4 linked regions of the Homo sapiens genome follow. The protein of the gene in region 3 interacts with the protein of the main gene of each other region in a pairwise test. Each region holds a gene or a part of one and is shown on either strand. Other genes may lie near its edges. The genes, in order: DOCK2, PSMF1, KHDRBS3 and ZNF575.

Region 1 (2,646 bases), on a different chromosome or scaffold from region 3:
GCTGCAACATTTGGCCCAAGCCATTTCACTGGTATCTGCTCAGCAGGTCTCACCACACCCTGGCGGTCTGGGCTCTTTCTCCCATTTGGCCAATGTCAAAACCAGCAGTCAGAGAGTAACTAATTTTTCATGTCTCTGTGACGCCAAGCTGGGGCTGTAACCACTAGGTCATCTGGCCCCTCCACCAGGTGACACGTGGGTTTGAGACTCTCTTCCCGCTGTCTCCTGCAATGGGGAGAGAAATCCAGGGTGTTGGTGTTGGGAGCTGGAGGAAGAGTAAGCTCACACTGTCCCCTGCCTTGGAGCAGAAGGTTCTGTTTCCTGGGGATGTCAGGGCTTTGGGGCAAGGTTTTGACCAGGAGCCAGGAGGCTGAACCCTTGTCTGTAGGGTGGGCAATCTTCACTGCAAGAGGACAGCTTCAATGTCCCCTGGCACGGCAGGAAATAGGCATCCTGCCTCCTGCTTGGCACATACAATGTGTGATCCCTGGATGCTGGCTCTGTCCCCCAGCCCTCCCCCTGTCTACCTCCCCCAAGGCACTGCCCCTCCTCTACCCACCCATTCACACCCCAGCTCTGCTCTCCTTCCAGCCCTGGCGCTCTCAGTGGCAGGCATCCCTGGGTTGGATGAGGCCAACACATCTCCCCGCCTCAGCCAGACCTTCCTCCAACTCTCAGATGGTGACAAGAAGACACTCACACGGAAGAAGGTCAATCAGTTCTTCAAGACAATGGTGAGGACATTGAGGGTGGAAGGAAAGGAAGGCATTGGGAGGAGAAAGGGAAGAGAGCAATGCAGAGAGAAGAAAATGGGGGGTTGTGTGTGCATATGTGGTCATTCCTAGGGAGGCATAGTCAGGAGGCCCTGAGTTCTGGGACACTGTGCAGCAATGCCCAGAGGGCAGTTCTCCTCTGGGGCCTCAGGCAGCTCCTCTGACCAGGATTGACCCCAGCTAGGGATGTGCAGGACCCAGGGACCTCAGAAGCAGTAGGTGGCCTACCCTCGCCTAAACTGCCCCTTAGTGCTCCAGCCCTTTTTTATTCAACCTATATCACAAAATCCTACAAATTGAACATTAGTTTCCAAGCGCTGATTCTGCAAGTCCCATCTCCTATTGTTACTTGTTGGCCTTTGCTCAAGATCAAGAAGGTACCATAACACATCTGATCCTCAAGGTAATATGAAATCAGGACTCTGCTACTACAAATATCTCAAGTTTACCATGAGCACACGATGAGTCAGGCACCATGCTAAGCACTTCCCAAGCATGGTGCCATTTGAGCTCCCACTCTTAGGATTTTATATGGGAGGCTCACAGGGTTTGGTAAGTGAGGTGCCCAAGTCCACATGGCTAGTGAGCCTGGGCTCACTCTACTGTCTACCACTGCCTTTCTGGCCAAAGCCAAGGGCATAGCAGCTCACATTCACTGGGCTTTGGGCAGGGGTCAGTGTTGAGGCCCTTGTGATTAGGACTGGGAAGCTCCATTTTGGTGCTTAATCTGATAATCGCATCTTGGTTTTGTGCTTGTTTATTCTCTCAAAAGCTGGCCAGCAAATCGGCTGAAGAAGGCAAACAGATCCCAGACTCGCTGTCCACGGACCTGTGAGCTGCTGCTGACTAGGGCTGCATGGGAGAGCCAGGGAGGGGAGTTTCTGGAAGAGGAAAGCCATGCGTGGAACATCGAAGCCTCAGAGAGTGGGAGACTGTCCCCATCAGTTGTCCTTACTTAGAGGAGACAGAGAGGCCAATCAGGTCCCAGAGCTTGAATGCTAACAAGCCCAGCATCCCCTGGGGCTGTGATCATGGTGGATGAGGAAGCCTCAACGTAGATTCCTGAACTCAAGGTACCAGCAAGAATGCCTTCTCCCAGTGTGCTCTCCCCAACATCCTAGGCACAGCTTTCATAACCCAGTTTCTTAGGTGTAAGAAACTGTTTTTATCTCATTTATTAAGTCTCAGAACTTAACAGAAAAGGAAGCCTTTTAAATATTCTTTTTAATTTTATTTTAGATTAACAGTTTTGTACTTTACATTTTTTTATACAACCAACCAGTTTCTTTTCTAGCCAATCATCTCTGAAGAGTTGCTGTTTCTTACTGACAATAAAAAATGTTCTCTTGGTTCGAATAAGCCTTGTTGCCTGATTCTGTTGGCTGACTCTCCTGGGCCCAGGACTGGGCAGGAAGCTCCCTGGAAGGAAGGCAGGCCCAGGGGCTGCAGTGATGTGAAGGAGCCTGGTGATGCCCTTGCCCAATGCCAAATTTCCCCACCTCATCTATGAGAAGATTCTTCAAGAATCTCCATGACTCTTGTTCCTTAGGTGCCAAACCCTGGGCTACCAGCATGTTAAAAAAGTTGCCCTGGTCTTCCTCACGAATCTGAATAGTGGAGTGTCATACCTCCTTTCTTCACCTTTAGAAAGAGATGGCAAGACCACCCAAGCCAGGTCACTCTAGTAAAGACCAAACATAATGCCAAAGAGTTAGGAAAAGAGGGGTCTGAGGTCCAGTGGACTTATGGTCCAGCTCTTGGATCTTGTCACCGGCTCCCAAGTGGTGGCTTTTCTTGGAGGAATTCTCAGGTTTTTCAGATGAGGCCCAAAGGAGGTGAGTAGCTTTGTCAGGCAGCAGCAAGAGAGGATGGG
Region 2 (7,761 bases), on a different chromosome or scaffold from region 3:
AGTAGAGACGGGGTTTCACTGTGTTAGCCAGGATGGTCTCGATGTCCTGACCTCGTGATCCGCCCGCCTCAGCCTCCCAAAGTGCTGGGATTACAGGCGTGAGCCACCGCGCCCGGCCTGGGTTACGGACTTTCTAAGGCATGGCTTACCCCCGGTCAGGGGTGTGGGAGGACAGAGCAGATCGCACTACAACACCCTCATCACCCTTCAGCAGTCACCTCTAGACGCAAAGACTGCTTTCTCTAAATTATGCAACTCTGTGCCTGAGGGCCTTCCAGGACCCCAGAAGCAGCTCTCAGCCTGTGGCAGATGCCCTCAAATGCAATAGCTCTGAGACATGCCCCACACTGCCTCCCAGAGTTCCCGGGTAGGAGTGCGGTCCAGTTGCCCGTAGAGGTAACTGGCTTCATCACACTCCCTCTGCTGGCTCCCTTTCCTTCCTGTCTCACTTCCCTACTCCACTGCCCCCACCGCTATTTCCTGGAATCAGCTCCCAAATAAACCACTCAAATCCCTGTCTCACCACGGGCTTCTGAGAGAATACATGTTAAGACAGGGATGATGGTGTAGAAGAGGGAACCAGTGTTCTGTAAGATGCCAGCTACAACCAACTGTATGCAAAGCAGTGTTGAACCAAGGGGTGGGGGTGACGGAGCTGTCTGCCCTGTAAGATGCCAGCTACAACCAACTGTATGCAAACCAGTGTTGAACCAAGGGGTGGGGGTGACGGAGCTGTCTGCCCTGTAAGATGCCAGCTACAACCAACTGTATGCAAACCAGTGTTGAACCAAGGGGTGGGGGTGACGGAGCTGTCTGCCCTGTAAGATGCCAGCTACAACCAACTGTATGCAAACCAGTGTCAAGGGGTGGGGGTGACGGACCTGTCTGCCCTGTAAGATGCCAGCTACAACCAACTGTATGCAAAGCAGTGTTGAACCAAGGGGTGGGGGTGACGGAGCTGTCTGCCCTGTAAGATGCCAGCTACAACCAACTGTATGCAAACCAGTGTTGAACCAAGGGGTGGGGGTGACGGAGCTGTCTGCCCTGTAAGATGCCAGCTACAACCAACTGTATGCAAACCAGTGTTGAACCAAGGGGTGGGGGTGACGGAGCTGTCTGCCCTGTAAGATGCCAGCTACAACCAACTGTATGCAAACCAGTGTTGAACCAAGGGGTGGGGGTGATGGAGCTGTCTGCCCTGTAAGATGCCAGCTACAACCAACTGTATGCAAACCAGTGTTGAACCAAGGGGTGGGGGTGACGGAGCTGTCTGCCCTGTAAGATGCCAGCTACAACCAACTGTATGCAAAGCAGTGTTGAACCACGGGGTGGGGGTGACGGAGCTGTCTGCCCTGTAAGATGCCAGCTACAACCAACTGTATGCAAACCAGTGTTGAACCAAGGGGTGGGGGTGACGGAGCTGTCTGCCCTGTAAGATGCCAGCTACAACCAACTGTATGCAAACCAGTGTTGAACCAAGGGGTGGGGGTGACGGAGCTGTCTGCCCTGGTGCAGACAAGGAGTAGGTACATTTGCTGTAGAAAACGTAAAGGCAGTAACAAAACAGACCAAAGGCCAGTCCACTTTTTACTGTCATCATGTACCAGCAATTTGAATCAACTTCATTGATAAAATTCTCCACCTGACTAAGGCTGATAGCTCTCACTGTCCCATGCCCACCCCTTGAAAGCCCACTGATGCCAAGCACACTGAGGAAAGTGCAATTAATCATGGGCAAAGAGACGAGGGAAACCTCACTCAGGAGGCAACATTGACCTTGTAATCCCACAGAGCTAGCTGCATTCCACCATGCCTTTGCACATACTGTTTCCTTTTACTGGAACACCTTTTGATCCTTAATCCACTTTTTTTTTTTTTTTGAGACAGTCTCTCTTTATCACCCAGGCTAGAGTGCAGTGGCTTGATCTCGGCTCACTGCAACCTCTACCTCCCGGGTTCAAGCGATTCTCCTGCCTCAGCCTCCCGAATAGCTGGGATTACAGGTGCCTGCCACCACGCCCGGCTAATTTTTGTATTTTTAGTAGAGACAGGGTTTCACCATGTTGGCCAGGCTGGTCTTGAACTCCTGACCTCGTGATCCACCTGCCTCAGCCTCCCAAAGTGCTGGGATTACAGGTGTGAGCCACCATGCCTGGCCAGTACTTTTTTTTTTTTTTAAACACTAGACAGTGAGCTCTATAGGGACAGGAACCTGTTCATCTGTGTCTGGCCCACAGTAGGCACTTAGGAATGGGCTGCCACTAAGTAGGCACCTTAAGTGGACACCCTGCACTATGGTTCATGGCAGCCCAGCCTATGAAAGTTTATTGATGGAATGAATCTGTAGAAATTTTCCATAATTGGATAAGGGCATTACAAACAGAAGGGACAGAGCAAGCAAAAGCAGGGAAGACTGAAAGTGCAGAACTTCTCAGTAGAAAGGGCAAATAGCTTTATGCCACAGGCAGTACATCTCAGAGAGGAGTTCCACAGCCACTAGCTTTAGTGTCATCCAGAATGTAGTCAACATACATGCACTCTTCCTCAGACCTTCTCATCCAGAATCTCTGCAGAAGGGGTTCAAGAATCTGGTTGTCTCAAGGAAACTTTAGGAACACAAAATTTGGAGAGGCACAGGGCCAGCTGACAAAGGGAGTGATGGACTATAAAGAGGTAAGAGTGCCCTGACTGGGTTGGGGCTAGGCCAAGAATTCATTCCTTCATTCAGTATTCATTCTGTCTTTCAATAAGTATAGATTGATCCCAGAAGGCACTCAGGTACATATGTGCACAAGGTAGACATGCTCCCTGTTCCTTTGTCACAGTCTAGTGGAAAGACAGTCATTAAATAAGCAAAGAAATAAACACCTAACATAGTTTCAGGTTATGATTAATGCTTTGCAGGAAAAAAAAAAAGCCAGAGAGGGATTAAAGACGGGAGAAGGTTATTTTGGATGGAATGGTCTGGGAAGCCCTCTGTTGAGGATGGTAGGAGTGAGGGATGAAGCCACTTGAAATGAAGAAGCAAGACATGCAGATATCTGGGAAAAGAGCATTCCAGGAAGAGGAACGCAAAGGCCCAAACAGAACACATGAAACAGGGAAACTGGCTGGGAAGCTACTGCAATAGTCTAAGTGTGAGATGCTGGAGGATCAGACCAGAGTGGAAGCAGTGAAGGTGATGGGAAGTGGTCAGATTCATAATATATTTTGAGAGTGGAGTCAACTAGCTTTGCTGTTGGACCAGATGTAGATGTGAGAGAAGAGGGGGAGCCAAGGTTATTGCACGTATAAAGGGGATGAGAGGACAGTTGAAGGAGACTGAATCAGAGAGGTACAGGGCTGGCAGGGCTGGGGCAGGAGATGGCAGACCACATGCAGATTCCTGCAGACCATGGGGAGGACTTTACTTTTCCATTGAGTGTGACGATTTTGAGCCAACGGATGTGATCTGACTTTTCTTTTTTTTTTTTTTTCTTTTTTGAGACAGAAGATCGCTCTGTTGCCCAGGCTGAAGTGCAATGGTGCGATCTTGGCTCACTGCAACCTCCACCTCCACCTCCCGGGTTCGATTGATTCTCATGCCTCAGCCTCCCGAGTACCTGGGACTAAAGGCGTGCGCCACCACACCCAGCTAATTTTTGTATTTTTAGTAGAGACAGGGTTTCACCATGTTGGCCAGGCTGGTCTCAAACTCCTGACCTCAAGTGATCCGCCTGCCTCGGCCTCACAAAGTGCTGGGATTACAGGCATGAGCCGCCACACCTGGCCGATCTGACTTGTTTTCTAACAGAATCTCTCTGGTTGCGGAGTGCAGTACAGACTAGAGAGAGACAGGAATGGAATGGGGCAGTTCTGAGGCTGATGCCAGGCATCCAAGTGAAAGATGACAGGAGCTTGAACCAGGTTAGTGACTGGGATGGGGAAACTAAATTTATTTGGGTAAAAACAATAAGTGGATTTCATGAAACTTGTTGAAGTAACGGGTGGTAAAAATCATAAAGGGGGTAGGCAAATAAATGATTGAAATTTGATAGTGGGTCAGGAGCTTCAGCTCTGCGGGCAGCAGTTGTGTCTCCTTGGAGAAGTGGTTTCAACTCTGAGCCGTTTTGTCATCTGCAAAATGGGGATAATAACGGTCCATACTTCATAGAGTTGTTGAGAGGGTGATGTAAAGGTTTTAGCGCACGATGTAGCACACAATAAACACTTAATAAATGTTATCTTAGAAGCCAGACTGCCAGGTTCCCATAACCATTTCAGCCGTTCACCGGCTGGCTGTTGTCATCTTGGTCAAATTATCCCTCTGCGCCTCAGTTTCCTCATCTGTGCAATGAGGCACATTAATCGTTAATATCAACTGCATAGAGTTGGGTTGTGAAGATTAAATAAATGAATACAAGTAAAGCGTTTAGAATAATGTGGACGGTAGCAAGCACGGCGAACGTGTTAACGATTATTAAGAATGTATTTTAGCCACATTTCCCAGCCCCTTCCCCGGCCTAGCATACCCCATTTTGTGGATGGGAAGTCTGCCTCTCAGCAAGGTGGCCTCTTGGAGGACGCTGTGCCCGCGTCAGGCGATCCTGTCGACTGCCGCCAAGACCCGGCTTCCGGCTTTGAGGGGCCACGCCCCGCTCGCACTCCCTGGCGGAACCTTTCAGTGCTGCGCTCGCGTTGCCAACCCGGCGCGCCTCACGCAGTTGCGCCCGCTGTTGGGACTACTTCCGGCTTCCCCGCCCCGCCCCGTCCCCGGGCGTCTCCATTTTGGTCTCAGGTGTGGACTCGGCAAGAACCAGCGCAAGAGGGAAGCAGAGTTATAGCTACCCCGGCCGCGGAGCCGGCTCACTGCACTACCCCCGCCCCCTTCTTTCCTCCAGACGCCGAAGTCGCGGGCGCTCATGGCGGGCCTGGAGGTACTGTTCGCATCGGCAGCGCCGGCCATCACCTGCAGGCAGGACGCGCTCGTCTGCTTCTTGCATTGGGAAGTGGTGACACACGGTTACTTCGGCTTGGGTGTCGGTGACCAGGTACGCCACGGAGCCGGCCAGGGTGGAGGAGGGAACTGTCTTCTGCCCAAACTCAGAGTACCGGAGGCCTGGTCCAGAGCGCCCGATTTCCCCGCTTCTCCCAGTGCAGGGTCTGGGGCAGATGGCAGCGTTGGTAAAACCTGCGGGTCGGAGGTTGCTCACCTGCCCCATCCCAGCCCAGAGTCCCTCACGGCACAGCTGGCACAACATGATTTGTAAACTCAAGGGCGGACACTCGCTTCAACACAGCCTGGCAGCCTCTCAGGCCAGGACTGTGTGGATCTAGCATTCCATAGAATGGCAAAGAATCTAGACAGGAGTTTAGCTCCCCAGAGCACTTCTCACCCACCTGATCCCGTCTGAACTCCTTACCACCCAGCCTCGGGGTGAGGGGACTGACTCAGTTCCGCCCTCATACCACAGTAGAGCCTCCACCAAACATCTGGATCCAAGCACAGGTACAGGAGTGAGCTTTGACCTACTCAGCCCCAGGCCAGGGCCCTTTTTTCACCCGTTAGCATGGGCCCAGAGAGTTCACACGCCTTTCACCCTTTACTGAAGGGCCCAGCATAGTCCACTCGCTACTGCCATCCCCAACTCAAGCTCTAGGAAGCAATCACCCCCAGAGTCGTACACACATACACCCTGGGTGTGAGGGTCATATAAGATTTTCTCCTCATAGTTGTCCCCATAGGGCCAGCCCCTCTTCTCCCATCCCCAGGCTCCACCTCTTACAGCTAGGGACGTCGTTGTCATCCCCACAGAGTTCTAGGACTGCTGGACCCAACCCACCTCACTAATTCTTTGCTCTGGCATTCTTCTTTCTTTCCTGTCTCTTCCCTGTGACCCTCATCCCCAACATCCACATCATCCTAGACATCTGCTTCCTGGGAGAAGTGGGCCTGCCTCCATGCCTGCCCCTCACTGTCACTGTTCTCTCACTCTCAGAACCAAGACTAGCCATGGGAAACAGACCACCCCACCTATTGCATCTTGCCATGAGATTTCACCCTTCCTCTCCTTTTTGACTGCTTCAGTTCTCAACTCCTCTAATCATTTTTTTTAGCTTCTCAAATAGAGTCTTAATTCTCCCCTCCTGACATAGCTTTAGGGACCTCTCTTCAAACTTGCTTTGTACATTCTGAGCACTTAGACAAGTATCCCCTTTCCCCCACCCCTCACTGCTGTCCCTATTCCTCTCTGTCTCTTAGAACTAAAGACCAAGACCACCATACCCCTCTCACACTTTACCCCCTCCAGCAGGAATCAGAACACAAGAACCGTCAGGGATTTCTGGCTCTTTTTTTCCCCAGACCTCAATTATCTCACTGGGACCCCAGGTACACACTCAGGATCCCCATTCCCACCTCCAAACTCACACATACTTCATCTCTCAAATGGGCTCTAAGACTAGATATGAGGATGGAAAAGAACAGCTAGCCTTTCACACACACATACCTGGAAGCAGGAATCATTTCACCTTCCCAAACACATCTGTCCCTGACCTTTCTCTTTGTGCTGCTCTTCATTCCACATACCTTCCAAATGTCTTCCAGCATTTCAGACCTTGGGACCAGGTAGAGACAGCACCCCCATTTCAGCGTCAGGCCCCTCTTTCAATGCATAGTTCCCCTAACAGAAATCTTGTCTCCCCACTTGTCTTACTCCAGCTTTTTAATCTTAAGCAGCTCTTCACTTGCCCCAGTCATTTTATTTCAACTTTTCCTAGATTCTTCAAAGAAACTGGTATGTGGGATGGTGCAGGGGACAGTGGGGCTGAGAAGAGGAGTAAGATTTGATTTTGACCTGGGATCTCCTCCATTGGCCCTCAGCTCCCCCTGCCCTTTGTCTTGTCCTTCAGATGGAACAGCTCTGCTTTGCACTCTGTCCCTCCTCATGTACCTCACTCCCCTTACCTACTCCTAGCTAGCTACTTAGACTCTGCCACACTGTCAGAACCCCATCCACCTCTGCTGAGGAACTTGTTCTAGAGGGCGTGTCTGATACCCTTCTCTCCTTGCCATTCCACAAATAAATATCAATCACTGTGGATCTGCTCCTACATTTCTTACCCTCACTCATGCTGTCTGAATCACTTTGACAGTTTAGGGACATGAGTTCACATAAGTCGATACCTTCTAGCTGGCATTACCACCTTGCCATACACTCAAGGCTCCAAAATTTTCAGATGAAATGTACAGAAAGAATACAATCTCATTTTAATAGTTTTTTTTTTTTTTAAAAAGGTCCTTGACCAATTCCCCAAGGTCCATCTAATTTTTCTCTGTTCATGGTGCTATTCGTTGAGCTTCTGCAGGCCAGAAAAAGATGCTGGTTTCAGACATCTTTGGGGAGGCCCAGGAGCCTGGGGAATTAGGTTTTTGTAAGGCATTGCCACCTTTCCTCTATCTACCCCAGCACTAAATCTTGCATGCCCCCGAAGGAATGAGTGTTTGGATTGCAAACTAGAGTGTGGTGTATTTTTGCTTCTCTCTGCCTTTTCTCCTTGATTGCCATTGGGGCTCAGGTTGCACTTGTCCTTCTGTCGCTTCTGCTGAGTCTACTTTCATTCAGAGTGGAAACTGGAGAGGCATCTTTCCTATTAGTTTATTTAAGAAGAGGTTTAATTTTTCAGCCTGGGGCCAGCCAACTCAGCTGACTCAATTGTGTTTTCCAAGCTCAGAGGATATTTGTGTTGCCTCTCCAGCCATCTGCTGTTTCCACCCTTCTG
Region 3 (5,693 bases):
GGTGTAGCTCACAATAGTTGCATTCCTCTCACACTCGTTTTTCTTCTAAATTTTTTTAGGAATGCCAGCCCTTAATTTGAAGACCATTTTTTAAAACTCTGTGGCTACATGTACCTCTGTGGAAAAATTGCACATTGCTACTTGGTATATTAGGTCAGCTGTAGTAGTGACTATTCTGTAATGTGTTAAGCCAGCGGAGCTTAACACAGCCCATTTCAGAGAGCTTATTTTATACAGAGAGCTCAAATCATAACCTCCGTGTTACACCGTATTTAATTAGCTTGTAAGGATATGATTAAGCCAGGATAACAAGGTGGGGCCTATATTCTATGTGTGGAAGAAGTATTCTAAGGAATATTCCGGTCCAGGCATTTGTCTTTTTTTTTTTTTTCTGTGATGGAGTCTCGCTCTGTCGCCAGGCTGGAGTGCAGTGGCACAATCTCAGCTCACTGCAACGTCCGCCTCCTGGGTTCAAGCAGTTCCCCTGCCTCAGCATCCCAAGTAGCTGGGACTACAGACGTCACCACACCCAGCTAATTTTTATATACTTTTTTTTAGTAGAGACAGGGTTTCACCATGTTGGCCAGGATGGTCTCGATCTTCTGACCTCGTGATCCGCCCGCCTCAGCCTCCCAAAGTGCTGAGATTACAGGCATGAGCCACCGCGCCTGGCCTGGTCCAGGCATTTTTCATCAATACTTACTATATTTGATTGAACTGCTTGTTGACACCTAGATTTTCCAACCTGTTTCCTGCCTCTGCTTTGCATATTCTGTTTCTTCTGCCTGGAAGACCCTTGCTGCCATTGCCTCTGTCCATTCCTTCTCCACCTGTCTTCACCTTCACCCTCAGAACACTGTGCAAGCACTGCATGCTCCAAGCCATTCATGACACACTACACTAGAGTGATGGAGGTGCCCCTTCTCCGTATACCCACTTAACATATGTAACGTGAGGGTCTCCTCCAGGCCAAAAGAATGAGAACCAGGGCATGCTGTCGTGGGAAACCAACCTCACTCAGGGATACCAGCAAGGTTCTCTTTGGAAGTGGCATTTAGGTTAAGGGCTTGAGTTGGAAATAGCCTGGAGGACAGGAGAGAAGGGCCTTCTGGCAGAAAGAGTAGCAAATATAAAAACTCATGCCCACATGTTTGAGATAAAAAGGAACATAGCTCCATTGCTTACACTTTTCTCATAGGAATGGCCATGCTGTGCCGTAGTCATTAAATGTGATGATTAGTCTCTGGTGTCATTTTCCTGAGAAAGAAAACGTGGGGGAAAAACTCCGTGTGGTTGTGACCACAAGTCTGGCCTGTGTAGTCACAGAGATTCAGTTATACTGTTCTCCATGCAATTTAGCCTGGCTTCTTAGCTCTTCTGGTCTGCAGTATCCTTATCTGTCAAATGGGTATGGCAGTTTTACTATCCGAGGCCGGGGGTGATGTGGGATCTCAGCGGCTGGTGTTCAGTAGACATTCACAGCAAGCATCTGTGCTCCTCAAACTGTGACTTCCTGAGGTGTTAAACATCTGAGCTGGATCATTTTCCATTTTGATTAGAAACCTCTTGATTGTATGAAATTGGAAGAATGGGGATGTTTATTTCCATGACAGTCTAAGATAACAAATTCAGGATGGTGGTTTCCCTACAAAATGGAGTGGGAAAGAGGAAAGCCTGAGAGGGTACATGGAAACTCTTTCTCAAATACTCAGAATGGTTATGGCTGAGTAATCTAGACTTTTCACAAGTCTATTCCTGTAAAAAATTATTCCTAGTTCAAATACATTGTATATATGTAGGCTGTTTTGCATCATCTGCAAAATGGCAGTGAGAACTCTTCCCTCTTGCTGTCAGTGATGGCTCTTTCCTCGTGCTCTCTCAAGGATGTTGTACATTGGAACGTGGATTTGCCTGTACTTTGAAAAGATCCTTGGCCTCATGTAACCAGACTTGTGACTGGACTGCAGAGATCCATTTCCCTGCTCTCCTGTCCCATGTGGCCATGGCTGCTGAGTCCTCTTTTCCCAGCAGCTTCCGGATGGTGATGCAACAGTGCCGGTCAAAGAAAACATTTCATCTGGGCATTTGTTTTTAATGTACTATAAAGTACAGCACCCACAATTCATGCAGCACCGGGTTCTCTGGTAGACGAGGGTGTAAGAAGAAATAAAGTCTTTGCCTTCTGTAAACATCCCATCTATTGGAAAGGAGGTGTTTACCTCCTCCCCCACTCCCACAGTGCCTTGCACAGGCCCAGCCCTAGCTCTTGGCACACTGGGCTAGAATTGTCCACACACATCCTCCCTCTCCGCAGACTCCCAGTCTTCCCAGGTCAGGTGCTGTCTTTGTATTCCCTCGTGCACTTTTAGGCACTTACTGTGTGTTGCGTGGCCAATTGTTGTGGTTAAAATGTCGAAACATATTTATTATGTATTAAAATTAGGGAGCTAGACAAGGGTCCTTTGATAATCCCAAAGTTGACACTTCTGCTTTAGAACTCTGTGATCTCGGTGGGAATTTCTTTGAATTTTCAGTCTTGCCCTTCATTAGTTGTCTTTAAGTTTTACAATACGTTATTGAATACTGTTGAAACTCACAGCCAGATGATTTTGTCCTTTGTTTTGTTTTGATCACTTGCAGTGGTGCTGATTACTATGATTACGGACATGGACTCAGTGAGGAGACTTATGATTCCTACGGTGAGTGACTGGCCAGAGCATGTGAAGAGAGGGAGGAGAGATGGCCGTAGAAAGACCTTAAAGATATTAATGGGAAGAGAATAAGGACATTTGGACTCTGAAACAGCAGCTTCCTGTCAATTCATTTGTGCATGTCTAGCTATTTTTAGGGCTCCTTTATTATATAAATATTTGAAGAGGACTAAAGACTTGCTGAAGATTGCATGAATCCAGATTCTGAACTTAAATTTTATGTTTGAGTTGGTCGCCGTGTGCTGATTTTCTCACAGAGTAGTTTTTCAAACTTCAGACACTTGATAGCTGGGTCTTTTTGAAGTGTCTTTGTTTCCTGACAGTGAAGGGAAATGAAGCAATTGAGACTACAGCTCTAAAGTGATTCTCCCACCTTCATCTTTATGTTTTAATTCATTTCCAATCTCAAACCCTCTGAAAAAAATTACACTGGGAGTCATTTCATAAAGGTTACAAAAGCACTGAGCCAAGGAGGAGATACAGGGTCTGTAAGCTTTACAAAGGGCAGCAGCTAAACCCCTCTTAATTCAGTGGAGCTGGTAGAGATGCTGGGGACTTCATGTCCAAAGTCTCACTATGCAGAACGATGACAGGTTTAATAATTAAAAGAATTGGCGGCAGCAACATAATGGTAGTAAGAAGAGCCCTTGCCGCAGGGCAAGGAGATCAGAGAACATGAAGCTTCAATCAGTTGCAAAGCTCTGATGAATCCCTGGTACCCGGTGCAAGTATATCAGGATTGTGGTTAATGGATGTTAGGACATTTCTCTTAACAGAACGGAAAAACCATTTTCCGGCGTTAAACCTTTTGAAGTGCATTTTGTTGTATCACCTGCCTGAAGCTGTGATGGCTGCACCTTGGATTTTTTTTTTTTTTTTTTTTTTTTTTTTTTGTTATCCGTAACAAACACTTAAGAGAAATATGTTGGTTTGCTGAATGCAGGCTACCTAAATTGATGCAAGTTAGCTTGAGGGAGTGACGTTGATTGCATGTTTTGTATCAAAAGAAGAGGTCATTTTAAGCATTTTTCCTTCACAGCTTTTTAAATTGGTCTCTGTGGACACATGGCTTTTAAATTGCTGTATGTTGCAGCAGGGATGTTAACTGTTTGATGTCCAAGACTTATAGATAACTCATTAAAAGTTATCTTCAGGCTGAACAGGTGTTTAATTTCAGGAGATAAAGATGATAGAATGTCCCTGGTTATTAATACCTTTGTTCAGTACGGATTTAGCATTATGATGAATGAAATCTGACATTATGTCGTTAAATTCATTTCATATTCATGAAGTGCTATTGAGAAGTGAAGTTCAACCCAATGCAACTTTCCTTCAGTCTTTCCGTGAAAGCGCCTGTGAAAAATGAGGTCATATTTCCCTTTCTCAGTCTGCCCCTTCCCGTTTTGCTCTCCGGTTTTCTTCTTTGTCTTCACAGATGTTTACCTATGTTTTTTCTTTGTTTTTGCTGTTGGAAGACATCTAAGTGATCCTTTTCCCATTCTCTTTTTCACTCATAAATGTCCTGATGTTTAGCAAAAGGCAGTTCTCTTTGCTACTTGAGCTTGTAAACTGTTGTTAAATGAGTAACCAAAAGGAAAGTCCTTGCGAAGTTGGTTACCATTTCAGATACAAGAACCGTTTATCTTCCCACGCTGACGAATTTTGCGAGTGAGATGATTATTTTTCCTTGTGTTTGTAATTTATTTAAGTAAATTCCTTGTTTGTTTTTCTTTTCAGTACACCAGGGGTATATATTTTCAATATGACATGTACCTTTGGTTCAGGGCTAAGTTAGAGTCTGAAAAATGAAGCCTGTGGGATTCATGGCAGTGATCTAATTGTGATTCATCTTACTGATTGTAGGGCAAGAAGAGTGGACTAACTCAAGACACAAGGCACCTTCAGCGAGGACAGCAAAGGGCGTCTACAGAGACCAGCCATATGGCAGATACTGATTGTACTGTCTGATGTTGTGAAATAGCCAATCTCCACCAGTCCTGTATACTGTTCAAAGTAATTTTTTTCTATGAACAATCCCTTTTTAAATAAATCAGAATGCTTAAAATCTGAATGGATGGAACTTAAAACTACTTTGTTGAAACATCAACCTGGGCAGAAAAAAAAAAAAAAAGACATGTAAAATTTTGTTATTTCCAGTCTGTATATGAAAAAATAGGTCATCAAAAGGAAAAAAAATAACTTTGATTAACTAGTGTTAAACAAAAAATAGGTTTACTAAATATGTTAATCTATTCTTTTAACATAAGCCTCACCTTTCATTTTAAAGGTTTCCATAGAATTTAGTTATTTTATCTTTCAGCCATATGCTAGTTTTTTTTTCTCTTGCCAACATGCGTAAAAAGGGAAGCCAATTACAAGTGCAAATAATGTGGTATTCTTTTGTAACTCAAGTCTTGAAATGTTCTGTAGTGTTAAGCAAAGTCTCCTCTTGCTTGATACTAAATAAACTTTTGAAAGAAATTTTGTGTGTGTGAGCTAACAATTTCATGGGTTTTTTTTTATTTAAAAAGGCCTTCATAAATAGTTGTAAACAGGGAAAGAATTCATTTAACAATGCTTGTCATAAAAGGGTCACACTAAACATTGTACAACTTATTTTAAAAATGGTATAAAATTAAATGTACCATTATATACTCACCATAGATTTAAATGCTGTTTAAAGAGTCCAAATGGTATCGAGCTGCTTGAGTGGCACGTTAAACTACGCAAAACCAAATCTTGTTTAAAAACTGGTTTTAAAATAACTACTGGATTTTCTGAAAAAGATGTGATCAGTTTTCATCTTGTTGAGCGTTTTTTCACTAGTGCAACTTTGGATTTTTTATGAGAATTTTGGTACCTTAATGAACACCTCGCTCCATGCTGGAAGCACTAAGCACAAAGCTTTTAAAGACTTTCTGGCTTGACTAATTGAGGTCGCACTCGCCAAGGCTGAGGATGTGTAACCCTTAAACGGTCTTC
Region 4 (7,681 bases), on a different chromosome or scaffold from region 3:
AATTGTTAGAATTTTTTTTGTAGAAACAGGGGTCTTGCTATGTTGCCTAGGCTGGTCTCCAGCTCCTGGCCTCAAATGGTCCTCCCACCTGGGCCTCCCAAAATGCTGGGATTACAGGTATGAACCACTGAGTTATCCTGTCCCACAGCTTCTGAGGAGGGGTTTCCTGCAACAACATTTATCTTAATTCTGGAGTTTCCAGGGAATGGTCCCTGGAGCTATTTTCAGAGCAGCCCCTGTGTGAATGCCTTTACACAGAGAAGGCCTGCTTTTCCTTAAGCCTATCAAATTGCTTCATTAAAATTTTATGTGGCCGGCTGGGCGCGGTGGCTCATGCCTGTAATCCCAGCACTTTGGGAGGCTGAGGCGGGCGGATCACGAGGTCAGGAGTTCAAGACCAGCCTGACCAACATGGTGAAACACCATCTCTACTAAAAATATAAAAATTAGCTGGGTGTGGTGGTGCACACCTGTTATCCCAGCTACTCAGGAGGCTGAGGCAGGAGAATTGCCTGAACTCGGGAGGTGGAGGTTGCAGTGAGCTGAGATCGTGCCACTGCATTCCAGCCTGGGTGATGGAGACTCCATCTCAAAAAAAAAAAAAAAAAAAAAAAAAAAGCATATGGCTGAGCTCATGCACAGGCACTTTGAGCACTTTGGGAGGCCTAGGTGGGCAGATCACTTGAGGTCAAGAGTTTGAGACAGCCTGGCCAACATGGTAAAACCCCATCTCTACTGAAAAAAATAAAATAAAATACAAAAAAATTATCTGGGCGTGGTGGGGCACGCCTGTAGACCCAGCTACTTGGGAAGCTGAGGCATGAGAATCATTTGAACCCAAGAGGCAGAGGTTGCAGAGTTTGCAGTGATCCAAGATTGCACCTCTGCAACATAGCAAAACCCTGTCTGGGCAACAGAGCGAGAGTGTCTAAAAAAAAAAGGCCAGGTGCGGTGGCTCACGCCTGTAATCCCAGCACTTTGGGAGGCCAAGGCGGGTGGATCACGAGGTCAGGAGATTGAGACCATCCTGGCTAACACGGTGAAACCCCGTCTCTACTCAAAAAAAATACAAAAAATTAGCCGGGCATGGTGGCGGATGCCTGTAGTCCCAGCTACTCTCGAGGCTGAGGCAGAAGAATGGCGTGAACCCGGGAGGCGGAGCTTGCAGTGAGCCGGGATCGTGCCACTGCACTCCAGCCTGGACGACAGAGCGAGACTCCGTCTCAAAAAAAAAAAAAATTCCAGGCATGAGGTCTCATGCATGCCTGACTCAAGCTAGACAAAGCTGAGGACCCAGAGGTGACTCAGTCTGGCTGGTAGGCGAGAGAGGTAGGGAAAGCAGGTCTGAGACACAGGGAGGTGTAGGGATTTGGGGAACTCAGGGGAGGGAGGAGCCAGGGAAAGGAAGACCCTCAGGCACTCCTTACTGAGAGGGTCCCCCAAATAAGAACTTCTCGCCCCTGGCACCCTTTCCCGTTGTTTTTGCAGAATTTCTAGACCATTTATGTGTCCTTTGAAGACACACCCTAGGCAGGGTTTATAGGCTCAGCTGTGAGATGTTCTAAGAGTTAGACTTGGCTTCACCCTTCTCAGGTGTAGGACCTTGGGCTGAAAACTTATCTTCTTCTGGGTTCCAGTTTTCTTATCTACAAAATGAGGTTGAAAATAGTTCAATAGCCTGACATAGCACAGGCTCTCAATGGGAACTGCCCATCATTATTTTGTCACTATCCTTGACTCCTTCCTACCCTTGCCACCTCCACCCACTTCCAGGCCCTGCTGAGTTAAACTCTCTCTCTTTTTTTTTTTTTTTTTTTTTGAGATGGAGTCTTGCTCTGTTGCCCAGGCTAGAGTGCGGTGGTGCAATCTCAGCTCACTGCAACCTCCGCCTCCTGGGTTCCAGAGATTCTTCTGCCCCAGCCTCCCAAGTAGCTGGGATTACAGGTGCACACCACCACACCCAGCTAATTTTTGTAGTTTTAGTAAAGATGGGGTTTCACCATGTTGGCCAGGCTGGTCTGGAACTCCTGACCCCAAGTAATCCACCTGCCTCAGCCTCCCAAAGTGCTGGGATTACAGGGCCGAGCCACCGTGCCCAGCCAGATTTAACCTATCTTAACCAGGCCACTTTTCTGTTATCACACCCTCTGCCCCATTCAAGGGGCAGCAAAGCATAAATGCAAATTGCCTGGACTGCAGGGCCAGGCTGAGGGATTCAAATCCTGGCTCTGATACTTCCTGGCTGGGATGACCTTCCCCTCCACACTTCATTTTCCTCCTCTGTACAAGGATGATAGTAGCACCTCCTCTTAAAACATTGCTATGGGGATTAAATAAATTAATGCACATAAGGACAGTTTCCAGTGTATAATAAGTGCTAGCAATTAATACTGTAATTAATATATAACAATACCCTCACTGGTCTTCTGGCTTCTACTCTGCCTTCTTAAAATCATGGTTCTTGAAAATAGCTGTGGCCCTAGAGGTTGGGCGCGGTGGCTCACACCTGAAATCCCAGCACCATGGGAGGCCGAAGTGGGCGGATCACCTGAGGTCAGGAGTTTGAGACCAGCCTGGCCAACATGGTGAAACTCCATCTTTACCAAAAATACAAAAAAAAAAAAAAAAATTAGCCAGGCGTGGTGACGGGCACCTGTAATCCCAGCTACTCAGGACGTTGAAGCAGGAGAATCACTTGAACCTGGGAGGTGGAGGTTACAGTGGGCTGATATCTCGCCACTGCACACCAGCTTGGGTGACAGAGCAAGACTCCGTGCAAAAAAAGAAAGAGGTGGGCACAGTGGCTCACCCCTGTAATCCCAGCACTTTGGGAGGCCAAGACGGGTGGATCACGAGGTCAGGAGATCGAGACCAGCCTGGCCAACATGGTGAAACCCTGTCTCTACTAAAAATACAAAAATTAGCTGGGTGTTGTGGTGAACACCTGTAATCCCAGCTACTTGGGAGGCTGAAGCAGGAGAATCGCTTGAACTCGGGAGGCAGAGGTTGCAGTGAGCCAAGATTGCGCCACTGCACTCCAGCCTGGGGGACACAGCGAGATTCCATCTCAAAAAAAAGAGAGAGAGAGAGACCGAAGTGTCACTTCAAACTAATACAATGTGTGGAGCTCATTTAGATCTTAAGTCAAGCAAATCAAGTGTAATAAAAAGATATTTATGAGATATGATGTTTGACATTTAGCTTCAGAATCATTTGGGAAGAGTGGATGGGGGGTAAATCAAACAATACTGGTCATGAGTGAATAATTATTTTAAAAACTTTTTTTTTAAAGATACGGGGTATCACTCTGTTGCGCAGGCTGGAATGCAGTAACACAATCATAGCTCATTGCAGACATGAACTCCTGGGTGAGTCCCCACTCCCTACCCCCGTGAAATAGCTGGGACTACAGGCTGCCATTAAGCCAGACTTTTTTTTTTTTTTTTTTTTTTTTTTTAAGATGGGGAGGTGTCTCACTATGTTGCCTAGGCTGGGATTTTTGTTTGTTTGGGTTTTTGGTTTTTTTGTTTTTTTGAGACGGAGTCTCACTCTGTTGCCCAGGCTGGAGTGCAGTGGCTTGATCTTGGCTCACTGCAACCTCTGCCTCCCAGGTTCAAGCCATCCTCCCACCTCAGCCTCCGGAGTAGCTGAGATTACAAGCGTGTGCCACCATGCCTGACTAATTTTTGTATTTTTAGTAGAGACGGGTTTTCACCATGTTGGCCAGGCTGGTCTCGAACTCCTGACGTCAGGTGATCCGTCCACCTCCGCCTCCCAAAGTGCTGGGATTACAGGCGTGAGCCACCGTGCCTAGCCCCCGTCTAGTTTGGAAATCCTGGGCTCAAGTGATTCGCCCGCCTCTGCCTCCCAGAGTGCTGGGATTACAGGCATGAGACAGGGAGCCCGGCCTAGGCACTTTCTAGTCTAAACACTTTCCATTGATTATCATATTTAATCCTAAAAACGCTCCATTTTATAGATGAGGAAACAGGCCTAGAAAGAGAGCTAGAAAGGGTCACACGGCTAGAAAGTGGCACAGCCGTATTCCAAACCAGTTACCCAGGCAATCTGGCTCCAGAGTCCAAATAACCCCGCCAAACTCCCAGGGATCGCCAGACCTTGCGGGTTATCGGACTGAGACCCACCCATGCAGAGGACTTTTATGGGCATTTCCTGGTCCTTTCTGCACCAGGCAGGAAGGTGCACCGCCACTGCTCGGGAAGAATGCTAAGCTGCATGCCACCCCAGGCCTGGCACCAAGAGCATGGGCCAGGGCACCTCGGGACCACCCAGGCTTCCGAGGGGGAAGGTAGATGGGTGCGTGGCTGAGAATCTTGAATCACCCAATAGCGAGGTGTGCCAAGGCGCTGTGCAAATAACGTGCCTTTTATTGGGCACTGGCTCTCTTTGAGCCCGGAGTCCCGCCCCCGCCCTCTCTCGAAGAACTGGCCAGACTTTTTGCAAACGCCTTGAAGGGTAGAATTAGCAGCGAGCTCTTGAAACTGCCTCTGGAGATGGAACTCAGCGGAATTCTCGAAAAGAAGAGGGACATTAAAAAGACGGGTGCATGCACTGATTTCCAAGCGCAGTTTGTCCATGTTAGTCTTGTACATGCTTGACTCCAGTCAGCCACCGTAGGCCCCGCCACCGGCGGTGCACTTTCTGTCGATACGGTAGCTTCGCGCTTGCTCACGAACTTGCCTGCCTGGCTGGCGCACCCAGCCCCTCCTTCCATTCCTTCTTCCCCCTCTCTGCAGCCTCTGCCAGCCCGCACTGCGCATGCTTTCTGACGCCCCCTTTGGTCCAGCGTGGGAGGAGGGGATGGAAATGAGGTTGGGCTAAGCAGCTTGCGCGCGCTCCCTTGCCTGCCCTCCCCCGACGCCGGACGCGCGCCGGGCGGGGCAGCTCCGCTGGTCCGAGGGCAGTGCAGCAGCGGCGACAGCGGCTGCGGCCGTGGCCGTGGCGGGAGGAGCCGGAAGCCCCGCCCCCGGGGAGGGGCCGTCCTGCAGGTGAGGGCGCAGGGGTTCGGGCGCGGATATTGGCTTGCAGGCTGAATGCCAGAATCACCCCGAGGGAGATCGGTTGTGGTCCGGACGCCTAGATTCTGGAGATGCTGGAGGGACTGTGCATTGGTGCCAGAGCCTCGGGAGGGTGCATCGGTGCCTGAATGTCTGATTCCGAGGGGTGCATTGAATCCTTTACGCTTGGGACTCTGAGGGAAAAGTCCATTAGGGGTCTCTGGACCGCGACGCATGCCAGGTTCCTTCCGTATCTTCCTCCAGGTCCCCCCTCTATCCTCCACGGCCCCATCCAAGCCAGGGATGAAATTTAACGGCAAGAAGGGCGCAGTTGACGCGGCGTCAATGAACTGAGACTAAGTCAAAAGCCGGGTAAAGCTAGGTCTTCGACGTGAAGCCCCGCCCACTGTGCCCATAGGCCCCTCCCCTGGGACGGTGATGAAAGACCTGCCCACTCCGCTCGAAGGCCCCCGCCCCCTGGGTCTAGTTTCAGAACAAGACTTTTTTTGTACAGCCCCGCCCATTCCAGGACTGCAGGGTCTGGTGGGGAAGGTCCCGCCCACTCTGCGCATAGGCCCCGCCGGCTCCGCGCTTAAGACGGCCGCTGAGTTAGTTGTGGAGACTCCGCCCACTCTGCTGAAAGACTCCAACCCTGGGTTTAGATAGCGAAGGGACTGCCTCTGGCTTGAATTTGCATAGCCCCGCTCACTGTGCTCTTAGGCTCCGCCTCCCCGCTAAGCCTGCCCCCGCCTTAGCATCCCATACTTGCAGACCTTGCTCCTAAACAGTGTGATCCCTCATTTTAGGCCCTCCAACCCTATCCCCATCAGCCTGGTCATCACCGGCGTCACCCCCGCCCCGCGCCCTGCCCCTAGGTTCCTGTGCCAGCAAGATGCTGGAGCGAGGCGCGGAGTCCGCGGCCGGGGCTACCGATCCTAGTCCCACTGGCAAGGAACCAGTGACCAAAGAAGGTGAGAGTGCCCCGCCTGTGAGTAGGGAGCATTCTCCAGGAACGGGGGCCAAAATAATCACATTCTGGGGGAATCTCAGGGTGAAAATTTGAGGGCCCTAGGGTGATGACTATTTGGGATCCCCAAAACTGCCACATTCTGGGAAATCCTCCCATTTGGCTCAGAGAGAGCCTCAGTGACCATTTGCTAAGGCTCAGGAAATGAGCCTTACAGAAGGGACGGGTCAGGGATGACATGCGGGATGTCAGGGTGATCACTGGGAAGATACTAGAAACGGATACCTTGGTAGCTTTGAGGAAGCCTTAGTAGCTTTGGGGATCCAGGAAAGTAACCCTTTGGAGTCCCTCAGAATGACGCCTGGGGGGAGGGGGGAGCAGAAACATGCAATTTGGGGAGTCTCAATGTGATGCTTGAGGTGCCCAGGTACACTTGGAGGAGCCCCACGAATATCAAAGTCGTGGCGGAGCCTGGCCTAGGCCCAGGGCGTTGGCTGCTTCCTGGAGCCCACCAGCCCTCCTGTCCCCCAGCTCCCCACCAGGGCCCACCGCAGAAGCCCAGCCAGTCAGCTCCAGGGCCCACCGCGTCCGCGGGCTCGCCTCCCCGGCCTCGCCGGCGGCCCCCGCCCCAGCGCCCGCACCGCTGCCCCGACTGTGACAAGGCCTTCTCGTACCCGTCCAAGCTGGCCACGCACCGCTTAGCACACGGAGGCGCCCGACCCCACCCATGCCCAGACTGCCCCAAGGCCTTCTCCTACCCCTCCAAGCTGGCAGCCCACCGCCTCACGCACAGCGGCGCCCGCCCGCACCCGTGCCCACACTGCCCGAAGTCCTTTGGCCACCGCTCCAAGCTGGCGGCTCACCTCTGGACCCACGCACCCACCCGCCCCTACCCGTGCCCCGACTGCCCCAAGTCCTTCTGCTACCCTTCCAAGCTGGCGGCCCACCGCCACACGCACCACGCCACCGACGCCCGCCCCTATCCTTGCCCGCATTGCCCCAAGGCTTTCTCATTTCCCTCCAAGCTGGCCGCCCATCGCCTATGTCACGACCCCCCAACCGCGCCCGGCAGCCAGGCGACTGCCTGGCACCGATGCTCCAGCTGCGGCCAGGCCTTTGGCCAGAGACGCTTACTGCTCCTTCATCAACGCAGCCACCACCAGGTGGAGCACAAGGGGGAGAGAGACTGAGCCCTCCCTTGGCTCACTGTCCCCTTCTGCCGCCAGCCCTAGCCAGTAAGAGGTGGGATTTCTAAGACCGACTGTATGAGCTCGCCTCTTCCAGATAGCTGGCAGAGGGCAGGGCAAGGGATTGGCCATTTATACTGGGCTCGAGCTCAGAAGCCCGAGGAACTCTTTGCTCCCCTGCTTTGGGGAGATCTCAAACCATGGACGTGGAGCTGTGGTTTGACAGCGCTGGCTCTGCTTCTCCCCACACACTTACATGGCAAAGGTAAAAAGTCTGCTACTATCGTGGGTTGATGAGGATTGTGGGCAAACAGGCTCTCTTGTTAAAAGTTTAAACTGGTGTCTCCACTTTGGCCATATGACGGTATCTAAGAAATTGAAAATACATACATGCTTGTCTCAACTCTTCCACTTGTAGGAATTTATTCTATAAACTCATGAATGTGAAAAAAAAGCATAGTGTTAAGGGTGTTCACTGCAGTGCGACTGTTGTGGCCAAAGACTGGAAG

What was found.
Region 1: the proteins of KHDRBS3 (region 3) and DOCK2 interact in binary tests that used the Homo sapiens proteins (3 or more experiments, as listed by UniProt).
Region 2: the proteins of KHDRBS3 (region 3) and PSMF1 interact in a two-hybrid assay, tested with the Homo sapiens proteins (2 studies listed by BioGRID and IntAct).
Region 4: the proteins of KHDRBS3 (region 3) and ZNF575 interact in binary tests that used the Homo sapiens proteins (3 or more experiments, as listed by UniProt).

Annotation. Positions count from the first base shown.
Region 1 is NC_000005.10:170,081,251-170,083,896, forward strand, and holds the end of DOCK2 (dedicator of cytokinesis protein 2), read left to right. Parts: intron 1-591; coding exon 592-734; intron 735-1,545; coding exon 1,546-1,608; 3' UTR 1,609-2,132; downstream 2,133-2,646. UniProt on the Homo sapiens protein: Involved in cytoskeletal rearrangements required for lymphocyte migration in response of chemokines. Activates RAC1 and RAC2, but not CDC42, by functioning as a guanine nucleotide exchange factor (GEF), which exchanges bound GDP for free GTP.
Region 2 is NC_000020.11:1,113,873-1,121,633, forward strand, and holds the start of PSMF1 (proteasome inhibitor PI31 subunit), read left to right. Parts: upstream 1-4,729; 5' UTR 4,730-4,901; coding exon 4,902-5,030; intron 5,031-7,761. UniProt on the Homo sapiens protein: Plays an important role in control of proteasome function. Inhibits the hydrolysis of protein and peptide substrates by the 20S proteasome. Also inhibits the activation of the proteasome by the proteasome regulatory proteins PA700 and PA28.
Region 3 is NC_000008.11:135,642,419-135,648,111, forward strand, and holds the end of KHDRBS3 (KH domain-containing, RNA-binding, signal transduction-associated protein 3), read left to right. Parts: intron 1-2,640; coding exon 2,641-2,699; intron 2,700-4,574; coding exon 4,575-4,666; coding exon of another isoform or gene 4,667-4,679; 3' UTR 4,680-5,192; downstream 5,193-5,693. UniProt on the Homo sapiens protein: RNA-binding protein that plays a role in the regulation of alternative splicing and influences mRNA splice site selection and exon inclusion. Binds preferentially to the 5'-[AU]UAAA-3' motif in vitro.
Region 4 is NC_000019.10:43,528,513-43,536,193, forward strand, and holds ZNF575 (zinc finger protein 575), read left to right. Parts: upstream 1-4,675; 5' UTR 4,676-5,009; exon of another isoform or gene 5,010-5,282; 5' UTR 5,283-5,390; intron 5,391-5,824; 5' UTR 5,825-5,910; coding exon 5,911-5,989; intron 5,990-6,516; coding exon 6,517-7,175; 3' UTR 7,176-7,575; downstream 7,576-7,681. UniProt on the Homo sapiens protein: May be involved in transcriptional regulation.